4 linked regions of the Homo sapiens genome follow. The protein of the gene in region 3 purifies or fractionates together with the protein of the main gene of each other region. This does not show direct contact. Each region holds a gene or a part of one and is shown on either strand. Other genes may lie near its edges.

Region 1 (3,500 bases), on a different chromosome or scaffold from region 3:
TCATTCCTCCTCCTGCCCACACCTACCTCCCTTTAAATATTTTAGGTTGCAGAAGCACAGCTGACCAGAAATTTGCTCTTAAAGATAAATCCTAAAGATAGAACTCAGTGCTTTATACTGAGTAATGGCTCAAGAAATTCGCCTTCAGCACAAGCTGTATGGTACACAGCTGATAGAATTTGCTGTTGTGGCTCCAGTTCACTGATGCTATGAACTACGGGCTAGAAACAGAGGGACTTAACAGGGCTTGAGACTAGCATTTCTCTAGACTCAGCATCCTTAGCTCCAAAGGTTCAAAAGAGAAATTGGTAACAACTAACCACTCAAGCAATTCCTCAGCATTAACACCAAAAATTCTCCTTAATTTTTCTTTTCTTTTTTTTTTTTTTTGGACAACAGAAATAAATCCTAGAGGACAAAATTAAACTCAATAGAGTGTAGTCTAGTTAAAAACTCGAAAAATGAGCAAGTCTGGTGGGAGTGGAGGAAGGGCTATACTATAAATCCAAGTGGGCCTCCTGATCTTAACAAGCCATGCTCATTATACACATCTCTGAACTGGACATACCACCTTTACGCAGGAAACAGGGCTTGGAACTTCTAAGGGAAATTAACATGCACCACCCACATCTAACCTACCTGCCGGGTAGGTACCATCCCTGCTTCTCTGAAGAAGTGAAAGAGCACTGATTTCAGCAGCTAAGAAATGGGCTCTTTTAAGGCGATTTAGACATTGCAGATTGTTCCACAGAGAAGGTACCTTAGCATTTCCTGTTAATAAGGTACCTAATTAAGACTAAAGTCCCCAGAAATGGTAAAGAAAGAATCACCTTTCTGGGCTGGGAGAGTAAAATCCTTCTTTAGTGACTAGAGTGAGGAACCCTGAACTTCTATTTCATCTAAAGAGCCATGAAGCAAGTTCCTGTGTGGTCTGCAGAACTTGGATAATGAGATGAAAAAACAAGAATGAAATTATAGGAAAAAAATCAAGAGGAAAGGAGTAAGAAGAAAATAAAAGTTATCTTAAAAAATATTTCTTTAGAGTGTGTGGTTCAGGTGGACTGGTCCTTGGTAGTATGGTCCATTAGTATCTGTAAAGAGAGAGAGTGATTGGTTAACACTTATGTCTTCCATATGAGAATTCCAAAAAACAATCGGAAACAGAGCACCTTCTCCAGGGCCCCTCCCCAGCCTGGGTGGGATCCCTGCAGTCATTCCCCAGGGCACCAGTCTCCCTTATTCTTCCACAGGGTCTCTGACAATGCCATTTCTGGTGTTACCGCCTGTTCCCAGGAATGAGTCAGTGTTTTTTCAACCCTGACTAAACATTACAATAATCTGGGGAGGTTTTACAAAATAATGTTTTGTAAATTTGGTCCCATCGCAGACCAAATATATCAGAATCTCTTAGGGTGAGGCCCAGGCTCCAAAATTTCAAAAAAACCCTAACTCCCTGATATCTCCCACAATTTCTCTATCTACCTTGTTAACTGGAACAGTTTTTTTGTTTGTTTGTTTGTTTTTAAGACAGAGTCTCACTCCATCACCCAGGCTGGAGTGCAGTGGCATGATCCCAGCTCACTGCAACCTCCGCCTCCCAGGTTCAAGTGATTCTCGTGCCTCAGCCACCTGAGTAACTGGGATGACAGGTGCCCGCCACCACACCCGGCTAAGAGATAGGGTTTCGCCATGTTGGCCAGGCTGGTCTTGAACTCCTGACCTCAAGTGATCCATCCGCCTAGGCCTCTCAAAGTGCTGGGATTACAGGCGTGAGCCACCGTGCCTGGCCTGGAACAGATTTCTTGTATTCTTCAAAATCAGGTACAACATTTGATCTTTATGTCAGAAGCAGGCTAGCCTGCTTGGTTTAATACTGGGAAAAAGAGCTTTTCACTTGCTTCTCCCCAGGTTACCTGTAATAATTAGGTTTGAATGGCCCATTTTTGTTGAGTCCCAGATATTTTGCTTGGTCATCTGTCAGCTCTGTAAGGTGGGCATCAAATGATGGCAGATGCAAGCTGGCAACGTATTCATCTAGGAAGAGCAAAGTGGCAGGAGAGCAGACTCCTTTTCAAAATGTCTCTCAAGTTATAACTTCCCATTTTCATTTGAAGCTTTTTTAAGAAAGCAGACAAGGGATGGAATAACTCTGAAAGAATCCACAACTTGAAATATTTGCTTAATTAAAAAAAAAACCTCAAAGCTGCCTTTCTGGGCAGGATGCTTCTCTCAGCACATGTACAGTGCGTTCAGAAAAGCCACTTACCAGGGTAACAAAAGGGAGTGGGCTTTTACCTCTCTATCCTTCTCTGGCAAAGCAGGGGGCTTCCCTGCAGTGGCCCACATGTCACATGCTACTCCTACCTTCCTGCAGCAACCTCCTTAACTAGATTATAGTCAAATTAGCAATCAAAGTGGACACCAGTAAGCTAGAAAGACCCTGTGTCAATAACACTCATTTAGGATAAGATCCATGGATCTTAGGATCATGAATTTCTAAGGTAGTCGGCACAGAATTTTTACTTTTCCATAGATAAGCTTCCCTTTTATAATTATACACTGAAAAAAAAGTCTGAAGTAAGCTATTGGAGGAGAGGAGAGCAAGAAGTATTTTAGCATTAAGAAGTCAGGGATTTGGGCTAGCCAAGGAGATATGGGAGATGGGTACACCGTGCAGAAAGGCAAAGGACTAGAGATGATGTATTATGTCACATGAACACAGCATGGGTTGCTTACAAGAGATTGGATGGTTTGCATATCCTCACAGAAAATGGACAATAAAACCTGTGTTTGTTTCTCTCATTTTGTTCCAAGGCTGTATGTACTCAGCTGCACTGGGAAGTTTACTGAACTTCATAAGGCTACTTAGAGTAAGAACATCTCCCTAAACCATTGTGTTAAGCACTGTTACTCATTAGCTGTGATTCTCACACAATTCTACAATGTATGTAGTATTATTTTCATTTTACCAATCAAGAAACTGAGGATCATAGAGATTAGAACTTGTCCTGAGGTCAAACAACCAGTAAGCACAGGAACAGGAATTGGAACTCTGACTCTAAATCCAATGCCTTTCATGGCAGTCATTTTACCAAACTATGCAGCTGTCTGCATAGATTTCCACTGTTTTTCACTCACCCATTTTCTTAGGAAGCAAGTACACATCCTGCTTGTATCGCCCCTCGGGTGCATTATAGAGTTCTATCAGTGCCAAAGCCTAAGGTGGGAAAAGAAGGCCAGAAAGCACAAAAATATTTCTTAGACAGGCACATAAAAATAAAACCAGGTTAAACAGCATTTGGGTAAGTACTACAGTGATCTACCACAGTCACAGTACCTAGGACTTTGCCTATACTAAAGGGCAGCACACATCCTAAGAGGATTTGTTGTTTTTGTTTAGTTCCTAACGAAAGAACAAATCAAATAAAACTAAGCTGGAACATTATATTCTCAACTAAAACAGCCAATTCAACGAATACTGACTTAGTGACTCTTTTCTA
Region 2 (3,500 bases), on a different chromosome or scaffold from region 3:
AAAAGGAATTTAAATGTTATTTATACAACACTGATTTCACTTACCCAGACTGGTATAGAGCTCTGTAATGAAAATGATCCAGAACTTGCAAAAAGCTCTGATTCTCCTAGTTGAGATAGTTTTTTGGTGATTTTTGGAATGTCTGTTTCAGCTGAATTCTCAAAATATTTTTCATTTTGAGTAGTTAAGGAATATGGTGCCTGAATTGAAGTTCCCATCTCCACTGTTCTTACACATAATCGAGAGTCAGTTTCCTCTACCTGTGGATTTATGTCTAAAACCCTACAGGTTTCATTTTTATTATCTTCAATGAGTCCTTGACTTTGTAACATTGTAACAACCCCTCTTTTTGATAGTTCTTCAAAGCCCATACTTTCCTTTCTGCTTTCTAGTTGGTGTTTTGTTGAGCACTCACTAGAGTTAGAACCACATGGAGTGCTATGCTGTACATTTAACTGATCAAATACATTAGCTTCATCAGATGAACTGTAGACTGAACTTAAGTTTCCTATAGAAAGCTGGAAATGAACAATTTTTTTCTTGTTTTGTAATATTTCAGTATGTTCTTCAGAGGGATAGTTCTGATTTTTCATGCCTTGGGAAGAATCTCTTGCTTCAATGCTAAAAATACTTGGTAGATCAGCATGCTGGCTCTCCTCCTGTGAAGAATATTCTGGCTGAAGCTGTTCAAAACATTGTTCAGATCCTGCATTAAGAAATTCAAAAATCAGTTAATCATCGTTACATGTTGTAAAAGTTGGATACTGACAGTCTCTAATAGTTTATCATCCAATTGCAAGTAACCTACAATTTTAGGCATAAAAGTTGATGTGTATAAACATGAATACAAAGATAAGGATGGTCACAGTGATTTCTCAAACTACAGCTCACACCAAGTATTTTTTCTTTTTCTATTAATATTTAATAAGGACAATATGGCTATAAACTGAGGATGTTTTCCTCTATAAGAACTGAATATGACTTTAATAACAGAAAAGAGAATAAAGCATCCATGTGTATCTCAATTATCCATGTGTGTATATATAATTTGTACATCCTTGTGTATCTCATGTATGTTTGTGTGTATATATAATCATTTGTACCAAAGGCTCAAGAATACTTGTTTTCTATGTTGCCCAGGCTGGTCTTGAACTCCTGGGCTCCAGGGATCCTCCTGCCGCAGCTTCCCAAAGTGCTAGGATTACAGGCGTGAGCCACTATACTTGGCCTAAGAAGAATACTTAAACTGGCTGGGCATGGTGGCTCACACCTGTAATCCCAGCACTTTGGGAGGCCAAGACGAGTGGATCATCTGAGGTCGGGAGTTCTAGACCAGCCTGACCAACATAGTGAAACCCTGTCTATACTAAAAATAGAAAATTAGCTGGGTGTGGTGGCACATGCCTGTAATCCCAGCTACTTGGGAGGCTGAGTGAGGCAGGAGAATCACTTGAACCCAGCAGGCGGAGGTTGCAGTGAGCCAAGATTGCACCACTGCACTCCAGCCTGGGCAACAAGAGTGAAACTCAGTCTTCAAAAACAAAATAAAAACAAAAACAAAAACAAAAAAAACAAACAAAAAAATAATACTTAAACTGTTAACTATCACATAATGATTGAGGTAGGGAAATTGAGGAACAAGAGGCAACACTTTTCCTTTTATTTCATAATGTTCAGTATTGTTTAAAAAAATGCATGTATTACTTCTGTAATTTAAATATTTTTTAACACCCAGGATAGGGGTGAGAGCAGGGGTGAAGACAAACCAAGAGGTGCTAGGCTTAATTTCTAAGGAAATGGATGTAAAAAATCATGGAAAAATTAACTTTTTCTAACTTAGTCATACATACCCCCAATAATATTTTCTGTAGCAAAACTGTGAGCTCCAACATGAGCCAAGTTAGTGTCAGGTTGTTGATTCGGACTTGTGTTAAGAGAAGAATGCATGCTGGTCCTCCTCAGTGCTGTGAAATAAACTGTACTTTTGGATAATCCAGTAGCACAGTGGCTTTCAGATGAAGAATCTGATCTCTGGCAGGAAACAAAAGGGAAAGGCTGAAATACTGATTAGGTATTAACAATTGAAACAATAATCATTGTGTTCCTTTGGTATTACTCTTCCTTAATTATCACTTCACTATGACAGCAATGATTTGCTTTTTCAAATCCAGTTCTTTTCAATCAATATGAAAGAGACTTTAAAATGTCAGGCCATCAGGAAGTGGAAGCAAAAAGACTCAGGTTTAAATCTCAGCTCCTTTGACTGTGTAGGAGGATACTTTAAATTTTGCAAAATTGTATTTACTTTACTGTTTAAATATGTTCCACAACTAAAAGTTGTTATTAAGCCTTTTATGGCATCATACTCCCTAGGTGGAGACAGGTGGATGGGACAAACAAAATTCTAATGTAGCTGTTTTCCTTTTTTTTTTTTTGAGATGGGGTCTCACTATGTTGTCCAGGCTGGAGTGCAGTGGCACGATCTCGGCTCACTGCAACCTCTGCCTCCCAGGTTCAAGCGGTTCTCAGCCTCCCGAGTAGCTGGGACTACAGGCATGCCATCACACCCAACTAATTTTTGTGTTTTTTAGTAGAGATGGGATTTCACCATGTTGGCCAGGCTGATCTCAAACTCCTGGCCTCAAGCAATCCACCTGCCTCAGACTCCCAAAGTGCTGGGATTACAGGCATGAGCCACCGCACCCGGCCCAATGCAGCTGTTTTCAAAGTTGGTTCCACATTAGAATCACTTGGGGAGCTTAAAAAATAATAATAATAATTAGTACTATCTGAGCACTCCCAGAAACTCTGCTTTAATTGGTCTAGGGTGTAGTCTGGACAATAGGATTTATTTTTATTTTTTATTTAAGTTTTCCATGTGATTCTTTTTGTTTGTTTGTTTGTTTCTTTTTTTAAAGACAGGGTCTGGCTCTGTCACCCAGACTGGAGTGTAGTGGCACGATCTCAGCTCACTGCAGCCTCCACCTCCTGGGCTCAAGTGGTCCTCCCACCTCAGCCTCCCGAGTAGCTGGGACTACAGGTGCGCACCACGACACCTGGCTAATTTTTGTATTTTCAGTAGAGACAGGGTTTTGCCATGTTGGCCAGGCTGGTCTCGAACTCTTGGCCTCAAGTAATCTGCCCGCCTTGGGCTCTCAAAGTGCTGGGATTACAGGTGTGAGCCACTGTGCCCAGACTTCCATGTGATTCTAGGTAAGGGTTTAGAAGAACTTTTGTTCCAGTAGAAGAAATGGCTTAAAACTATTTTTAGATATTCACTGCAATGGGACATCTACTTTAATATACCTGGTAAAAGTCTCTGTTGTCTGGAGAAATCCCAGAGGATGATGATGATAAGTCAAAATCTGGATGTGGTTCTAAGGGTTTAAACAGCTGATGATGCAAATTAGGAAAAATGTGTTCCAATTCTGGAAAGTCAAGGTCAACTGTTAGAATTTTTGAGGGAAAAAAATCATAAATTTATTTTTAAGGTAAACACT
Region 3 (3,500 bases):
GTGTGTGTGTGCACACCCTCCCTCACCCTCTCACTAATGCACACACACTTTTAAGTGTATGGGCCCAGGTTATGGCAATAGCTACATTTTGAAAATCAAAGGCGAGAAAAGTTAACCAAGAGTGTCACGTGATACCATGTGATGGCCACCTATGTGGCATAAGTATCAGAAAACCTCCTGCCGTGAGCAGGCCAGACACGGTGGCTCACGCCTATAATCCCAATATTTTGGGAGGCCGAGGCAGGCGGATCATTTGAGGTCAGGAGTTTAAGACCAGCCTGGCCAACATGGTGAAACCAGGTCTCTACTAAATATACAAAAATATCTGGGCATGGTGGCGGGCACCTATAGTCCCAGCTACTCAGGAGGCTGAGGCATGAGAATCGCTTGAACCTGGGAGGTGGAGGTTGCAATGAGCCTAGATGGCATCACTACACTCCAGCCTGGGCAATAGAGCAAGACTCCAACTCAAAAAAAAAAAAAAAAAAGAAAAAGAGAAACCTTGTCTCGCGTGACCCTGGCGCCTCCTGGAAGCTTGCTCATGCCCAACTGGTGAGAGGCAGGGGACCTAGCCAGGTTGTCTGTCAGCCGCTGCAGGATGTGATGGGTCATCTTGAGTTGAGCAGGCTGTGGTGGAGGCCAAGGCTGTGCCCGTTTTGTGCCTTCTCCTGCCTTCATTGTCCTTCCACAGACAAGTTTGCCTTCCCCCGGGTCTTGTGTGTCCTGGGGGCTTAGTGGTCGGTACAGTGCACGGGACCCACCACTTTACGGACCATCAGAGTCTGTCACTTCACCTGTCTTCAGAGATGGGCGTGTGCTTAGACGTTGTTTGGAACGCGTTGTTGAAGCGTACTGCACGTCGGTCATCACGGGGTGAACACGCGAAGCTGGGCGGTCCGTGTCTGCTTCATCCAGACTCCCCCAGAGTTTGCGTGTTAGCACGTGTGCCCCAGTATGCCCCTTTCTTCCCTCGGCACCCTCCCTCTGCATGTGCCTTTGTGCAGGTGTATGGATGTATGTATGCACGTGGATAGGTGTGCGTGTACATATGTAAGTGTGCGTGTGTGTCCATGTGTGTATATACATGGGCACACACATGCCTTTTAAAAGTTACAGTGCTGAACACTGCACCCAGAGAATTTGGCCTGACGTGCGCCCCATCCTCTCTATATCTCAGACTCCATGGATACCGAGGACTCGGCCTCTTCTCAGAAGTTGGATTTGTCAGGAGAAATGGTGCCTGGTCCCCTGCCAGCCCCCGGAAAGTGCAGGAAGCGAAGAATGCCTGTTGGAAGATTCCAGACGTTTTCGGACCAGGAGGGTTTGGGCTGCCCGGAGAGAACTCATGGGTCCTCCGTGCCCAAGGAGAGCCTGAGCAGACAGGACAGCTCAGAAAGCAGGAACGGGAGGACCTTGTCTCAGCCTGAGGCCTCGGAGACTGAGGAGCAGAGGTCTCGGGGTGTGACCGACACCAGAGAGGTGAGAGAAGGGCTGGGGAGCAGCAGGCCCACGGCACTGCCTCCCTAATGTGGGGCTGTTACGGCTTTGGCGGGGCCGTGATTACGCCTGCGGCACTGACTGTGTCCCTCCCTGATGCAGGGCTGTTACGGCGGTGCCGTGATTACGCCTACGGCACTGACCGTGTCCCTCCCTGATGCGGGGCTGTTACGGCTTTGGCGGTGCCGTGATTACGCCTACGGCACTGACCGTGTCCCAGGATAAAGGGAATCATCACACTTAGGGTTCCAGGGTGCTTGCTGCTGCGTTTTGTTGGACGTGTGCCTCTGTGCCACACGCTGTCCTGCGCTGCTGTTCTGAGTGGAAGCCCCGTGGTGGAGAGAGGGGACTCTGCCTTACGGTGCACAGGGCATTTGTCTCCAAAGCTGGAATCGGGCATCTTGGCCGGCTGAGCCATTGATGACCCTTTCGTGAGGGGAGGATCCTGGAGGTCGCTGTGATGAGAGACCGAGTCACTCCACCCTCAGGGTGACCTAGAGGTCAGGGGGACAACTGGCGCAGGCCCAGTCAGAGGCGTTGAGACACACCTGCTGTAGACATGAGTGCAGACCACCCAGAAGGGAACAGGCAGGGGCTGTTCACTTGGTACTTGCCACAACGAGGGCTTCAGACTCCCATGCAGGCAGAGGAGCTTGAAGGTGCGGAACTGTGGGACAGGAAGGGAGGCATGGCCGGAGCTAGAGGCAGCTCCGTAGCAGCATGGGGTGGGGGGGGGTCCCAGAGCTGGGTGGGGCGTGTTTGACGTCCCCGGCAGGTCCTGAGCTGGAAGGAGGCAGAGATGGGGGAGGTGGGCGGTCTGTTTCAGGGTTATTGTTTGACTCCGGGCCATTGCTGGGGACAGCGCCTGGCACCCTCTACCAGCCTGACTGTGGGTGCAGGCTGCTTCCTGGGCAGCTCCTTTTGAACACAGGCTCTGACTGCGGCCTGGATGTGTCTTCCGCTTCCCTGTCTGGGTTGAGGGGAGGAGTCTGGGGCCTGCTTGAGTTGGGAATGTGTGGGCCCCGTCCTGTCCTGTCATCGAGACCTCACTCATCCAGGACCGGTGCACCTGGCTAAGCCTCACTGGGCAGGCACTGCTGAGCCGCCCTCCACCTGGCTCAGGGCTGGGGCCTCAGGGCACCTGTCCTCCCCTTCGTGGTGCGAGGGCATCCCAGGGTGCGCTTGGGCACCTGCTGGCATTCAGGACCTCAGTTACTGACTCGCTGGCCTCATGCTGTTGTTTCCATCACAGCCGTCTCCCGGGTCACACTCGGCTCTACCCGGGAAGAAGACGGCCCTGCAGGCGGCGCTCCTGGAGACGCTCTTGGACCTGGTGGACAGGAGCTGGGGCGGCTGCAGGTCCCTGCACAGCAACGAGGCATTCCTTGGTGAGTCAGGGCGGCCACTGCTCTTGCCCTGTAGGCAGCGTCTGTGTGGGTTCCGGGGTCCTCTGCGTGTGGTGACCTAGGAGTCATCTCAGCCCCAGGTCTCCTATGTCCCCTCCCACGAGCGTGTGGTGGTCCCGCGCCTGGGCCCTCCCTGGCAGTCTTTGCATCTCACAGTGTCCAGGGCTCTCGGGAGACACCACATGGGCCTGGGCCTGTGGGTCCCCCGCTGTGCTCTGGGGTGTTGGGGGGCCTGTCACCTCATTTTGCTCAAAATGCTGTCCAAAGGGGCTTGGTTCTGATGGCTGTGATCACATGGGGATTTGGAGTTTGGAAGCTGCTCAGCATCTTCTCCCCCGACCCAGACGTGTAGCCTGTGCTGGGCCTGGATTGCAGAGCTTTTGGTTGGTGTGGGACCCAGGAGGGTGGTCCCTCCCCAGAGAGGACTTGGGTCTGTTGGATTCTACCAGGCAACCCGTACATGAGCACACTGGGGCCTCCCTCATCCAGGATCACACTGGGAGACCAGGAGATGCCGCGTCCCCAGGGGCACCTTCTCTTTGTCCTGCATCCTGGGGTGTGGCTGTGTGTGTCCCTCAGGAGCCTAGCCAGTGTGCT
Region 4 (3,500 bases), on a different chromosome or scaffold from region 3:
CGCCTAGTCACAGCAGGTGGACCTCGTGCTCATCAGAGCATGCCAATCCTAAGCCATTGGACATATGTAGACTGGTTTTTGTTGTTGCTATGTACATATAAATATATATATAAAATGAACATAGTTCATGCTTTCAGATAAAATGAGTAGATGTATATTTAGATTAATTTTTTTAGTCAGAACTTCATGAAATCCACACCAAAGGAAAGGTAAACTGAAATTTCCCTTGGACATATGTGAAATCTTTTTGTCTTTATAGTGAAACAAAGCCAGAGCATCTTTGTATATTGCAATATACTTGAAAAAAATGAATGTATTTTTTTCTCCAAAGAACAGCATGTTTCACTCAATGGTGAAAAGGTGGAAACATTTATGTAACTTTATGTGTATCTGTCTTGATATCTACTGACATTGTCTATATGAGGAAAATGATTACTGGTCATGCTCCTGTGAGTTTTTTGGGAAGGTAGGGTCATTTCTCCCTGCCTGCTTTGTGCCAACTAGCATGTTGCATCTACATGCATTATGAGTCTGGTTAGGCATTACTTTAAACATACATAAAGAGACAGTAGGACATTGTGGCTGAGTCTACCCAGCTCAAGGTAAAGGAGAATGTTGCTAATTTTTTAGCAAACTAGACCAGCATTATTACTCAAACTAAAAATATCACACCTGAAAAATTTAATTTAGGACCTAAAATGTCTAGATTAGCTTTCTGCTTTTTTTATTTGAATAACTCATTCAGTTGTGAATGAATTCCTCTTTATTTGGTGCCACAGTCACCAAATGACAAGGATTTGCCACTTTCCCACCAAATTGTGAGTGCTTGTAATTTAGGTCTCTCTACCTTAAATTCAGTATAAGGAAACGTAATTATGATTGATTTTTTCCAAAGATGACAAGCTGTGTTGAAATACATTTTTTCTTTTGACCAATTGACAGAATCTAATAAGCTTTAATAATCTTCCCCTTTTATGTGAAAAGTTTTGAGAACTGTGAAATGTTTAGGAACAAACTGTTGAAATCCATTGGAAGGGAAAAAAGAAAGTGGTACCAGTGTTACCAGCTCAACTAAAACCTGCAATTCTGCATTTCAACTCTTCACTTCCTCAGCCTACAAATAGCTCATTAGATGACATTCACGCATGCTGGGTATAGGCAAGGAAAGTAATTTTCAAAGTACATTTGCAGTTCTCTTTTTCAGAGATGATTCTATGATAGTGCCTCTGAAAGTTGATGCAGCATTTTTGCCTTTCCAAAAAGTATTTATCCTCACTGCTTTTTGCAGTACTTGTATTTTCACAGATGGATTATCTGGGGTAATTTTCTTCAAAGGGAGTTTGTTATACACAGTGAAAATGTATTATAGAGTAGAATAGTAAAGCTCTAGGGGTTTCAGAAAGCTTTGATGAACAGATGACAAACATCTGAAACCCCCTCCGCACTGTTACCCAGTGTGTATATAATGACTTGTTATAGCTCAGTGTGCCCTTGAATCCATACAGTTTCTTAAAAGACAATAAAATCTTATTAATAAAGTTAATGTAACTTCTAAGTTCTAGAAAATGCTGATTCTGTCTGCCCCATTCAATTGGGGGCTACTAATTGATTTGTTGCTTGGATTTCCTGAGAATTTCTCTATTTGTAGGAGGGGTTTTTTCTTTTTACGGTCTGTTGATGACAATTACTTTATGGGTGTGATGCACCGATGGTAGCCAAGGAATCTGTTGGGGAAGTTCGGAAAGAAACCTTTTCTTTCTTTTATTCAGTTTAAAGTAAACTTTATCCTGGATGTTTAGAATCAACATTAAGAGTTATATTATGGTGTTCAGAGATTAAGCTGACTTGGATACAATATTTTCTTTTGAAAATGAATTTTCTTTTTCATTTGTGATTTTTAAAAAATGTTGCACCAGTTATGCTTCATGCATCGTTACATCTTCATCAGGTTAATGTAATGTCTAGTTCCTTTGCAATAAATATATTGCTGCAGCTTTCTTGACGTATACTGTTACTTTTCGGGAGAGAAGCAGCTCTTGGTTAGAGTCTTTTACTGCAGGGGTCCCTGGGTACCTGTCTGTGGCCTGTTATGAACCAGGCTGCACAGCAGTGGTGGGCATGCGAGCAAGCATGACTGCCTGAGCTCTGACTCCTGTCAGATCAGCCACGGCATTAGATTCTCATAGGAGCGCAAACCCTATTGTGAACTGTGCATGCAGGAGATCTATGTTTTGTGTTCCTTAAGAGAATCGAATGCCTGATGATCTGTCACTGTCTCCCATCATCCCCAGATGGGATCGTCTAGTTGCAGGAAAACAGTCAGGGTTCCCACTAATTCTACATTATGGTGAGTATATAATAATAATATGGTGAGGATATAATAATAATAATAGAAATAAAGTGCACAATAAATGTGCTTGAATCATTGAATCATCCTGAAACCATCCCCTGCCACCAGTCTGTGGAAAGATTGTCTTCCATGAAACCAGTCCCTGGTGTCAAGAAGGTTGAAGACCGCTGCTTTACAAGATCTGCATGGTGAAACCCCATCTCTAGGGAAAATACAAAAATTAGCCAGGCGTGGTGGTGTGCATCTGTAATCTCAGCTACTCAGGAGAGTAGGAGAGGCATATATTGCTACTTATAGGAGGCTGGAGAATAGTTTGAACCTGGGAGGCGGAGCTTGCAGTGAGCTTGCAGTGAGCCATCATGCCACTGCACTCTAGCCTGGGCCACAGAGTGAGACTTTGACAAAAAAAAAGAAAAACAAACAACCAAACAAAAAAGATCTGCATGGTTTGGATTGTACCTACTTAAAATTGCTACACAAATAATTCTTCCTAATAGAGTCAGACAACAAAGATAATTTAGGAGACATTTATGTAAGTACATTGTTACCATTTTTCAACTTACTTTCTCAATGGAGACTTTTGAAAGAAAAATATAAGCAACCACATTGACAGATTTGCATTCTACCCTTTTATTTTCCAGGCCCCCTCATAGATAGCAAGGGAGAGAGAGCCACAAGAAAATACAAAATTTTCCAACTGGACGCAGATAATTAAGAATTAAGGACATTTACTGATGGATGTGATATGAATGTTTTTATATAAAATATGCATCTCTTGGAGTATTCTCATGTATATTTGTAATCCAATAAAAATACACTGTATCTTCTTGCTAACTTTAGGACTAACACTTTTAACTATTTTTTGCTTAATGTAGTAGTTAAGCATTTTGAGAAGGAGGCACTGTAGGCTTAATAGTACAGTCTCTTAATATCCATGTTGACTTTTACCCATTTTGTCACTATTTCACCAATTATTTTTTCACAGTACCAGATTAGGAGTAAGAAATCTACCATCTGATGGCATGAAGTATTTAGTCCTTCTACCATGATGTGACACTCTCATTATATTACTCATTAGCTGTGATATAATGAGAAAAGCACGGGATTTAGGGTGAGAAGTTTTATATCTGTGTCTTGGTTCCACCACTTT

Evidence for each region.
Region 1: the proteins of CEP72 (region 3) and AHCYL1 purify together in Homo sapiens (co-immunoprecipitation; 3 studies listed by BioGRID and IntAct, with this or other methods). This does not show direct contact.
Region 2: the proteins of CEP72 (region 3) and CEP295 purify together in Homo sapiens (co-immunoprecipitation; one large-scale study listed by IntAct). This does not show direct contact.
Region 4: the proteins of CEP72 (region 3) and TBC1D4 purify together in Homo sapiens (affinity purification with mass spectrometry, with the first as the bait; one large-scale study listed by BioGRID). This does not show direct contact.

The regions. Positions count from the first base shown.
Region 1 is NC_000001.11:110,019,265-110,022,764, reverse strand, and holds part of AHCYL1 (S-adenosylhomocysteine hydrolase-like protein 1), read right to left. Parts: intron 3,218-3,500; coding exon 3,139-3,217; intron 2,035-3,138; coding exon 1,914-2,034; intron 1,092-1,913; coding exon 1,085-1,091; coding exon of another isoform or gene 1,039-1,084; 3' UTR 1-1,038. UniProt on the Homo sapiens protein: Multifaceted cellular regulator which coordinates several essential cellular functions including regulation of epithelial HCO3(-) and fluid secretion, mRNA processing and DNA replication.
Region 2 is NC_000011.10:93,724,182-93,727,681, reverse strand, and holds part of CEP295 (centrosomal protein of 295 kDa), read right to left. Parts: intron 3,429-3,500; coding exon 3,307-3,428; intron 2,032-3,306; coding exon 1,851-2,031; intron 707-1,850; coding exon 45-706; intron 1-44. UniProt on the Homo sapiens protein: Centriole-enriched microtubule-binding protein involved in centriole biogenesis.
Region 3 is NC_000005.10:636,340-639,839, forward strand, and holds part of CEP72 (centrosomal protein of 72 kDa), read left to right. Parts: intron 1-1,177; coding exon 1,178-1,479; intron 1,480-2,749; coding exon 2,750-2,885; intron 2,886-3,500. UniProt on the Homo sapiens protein: Involved in the recruitment of key centrosomal proteins to the centrosome.
Region 4 is NC_000013.11:75,283,170-75,286,669, reverse strand, and holds the end of TBC1D4 (TBC1 domain family member 4), read left to right. Parts: 3' UTR 1-3,167; downstream 3,168-3,500.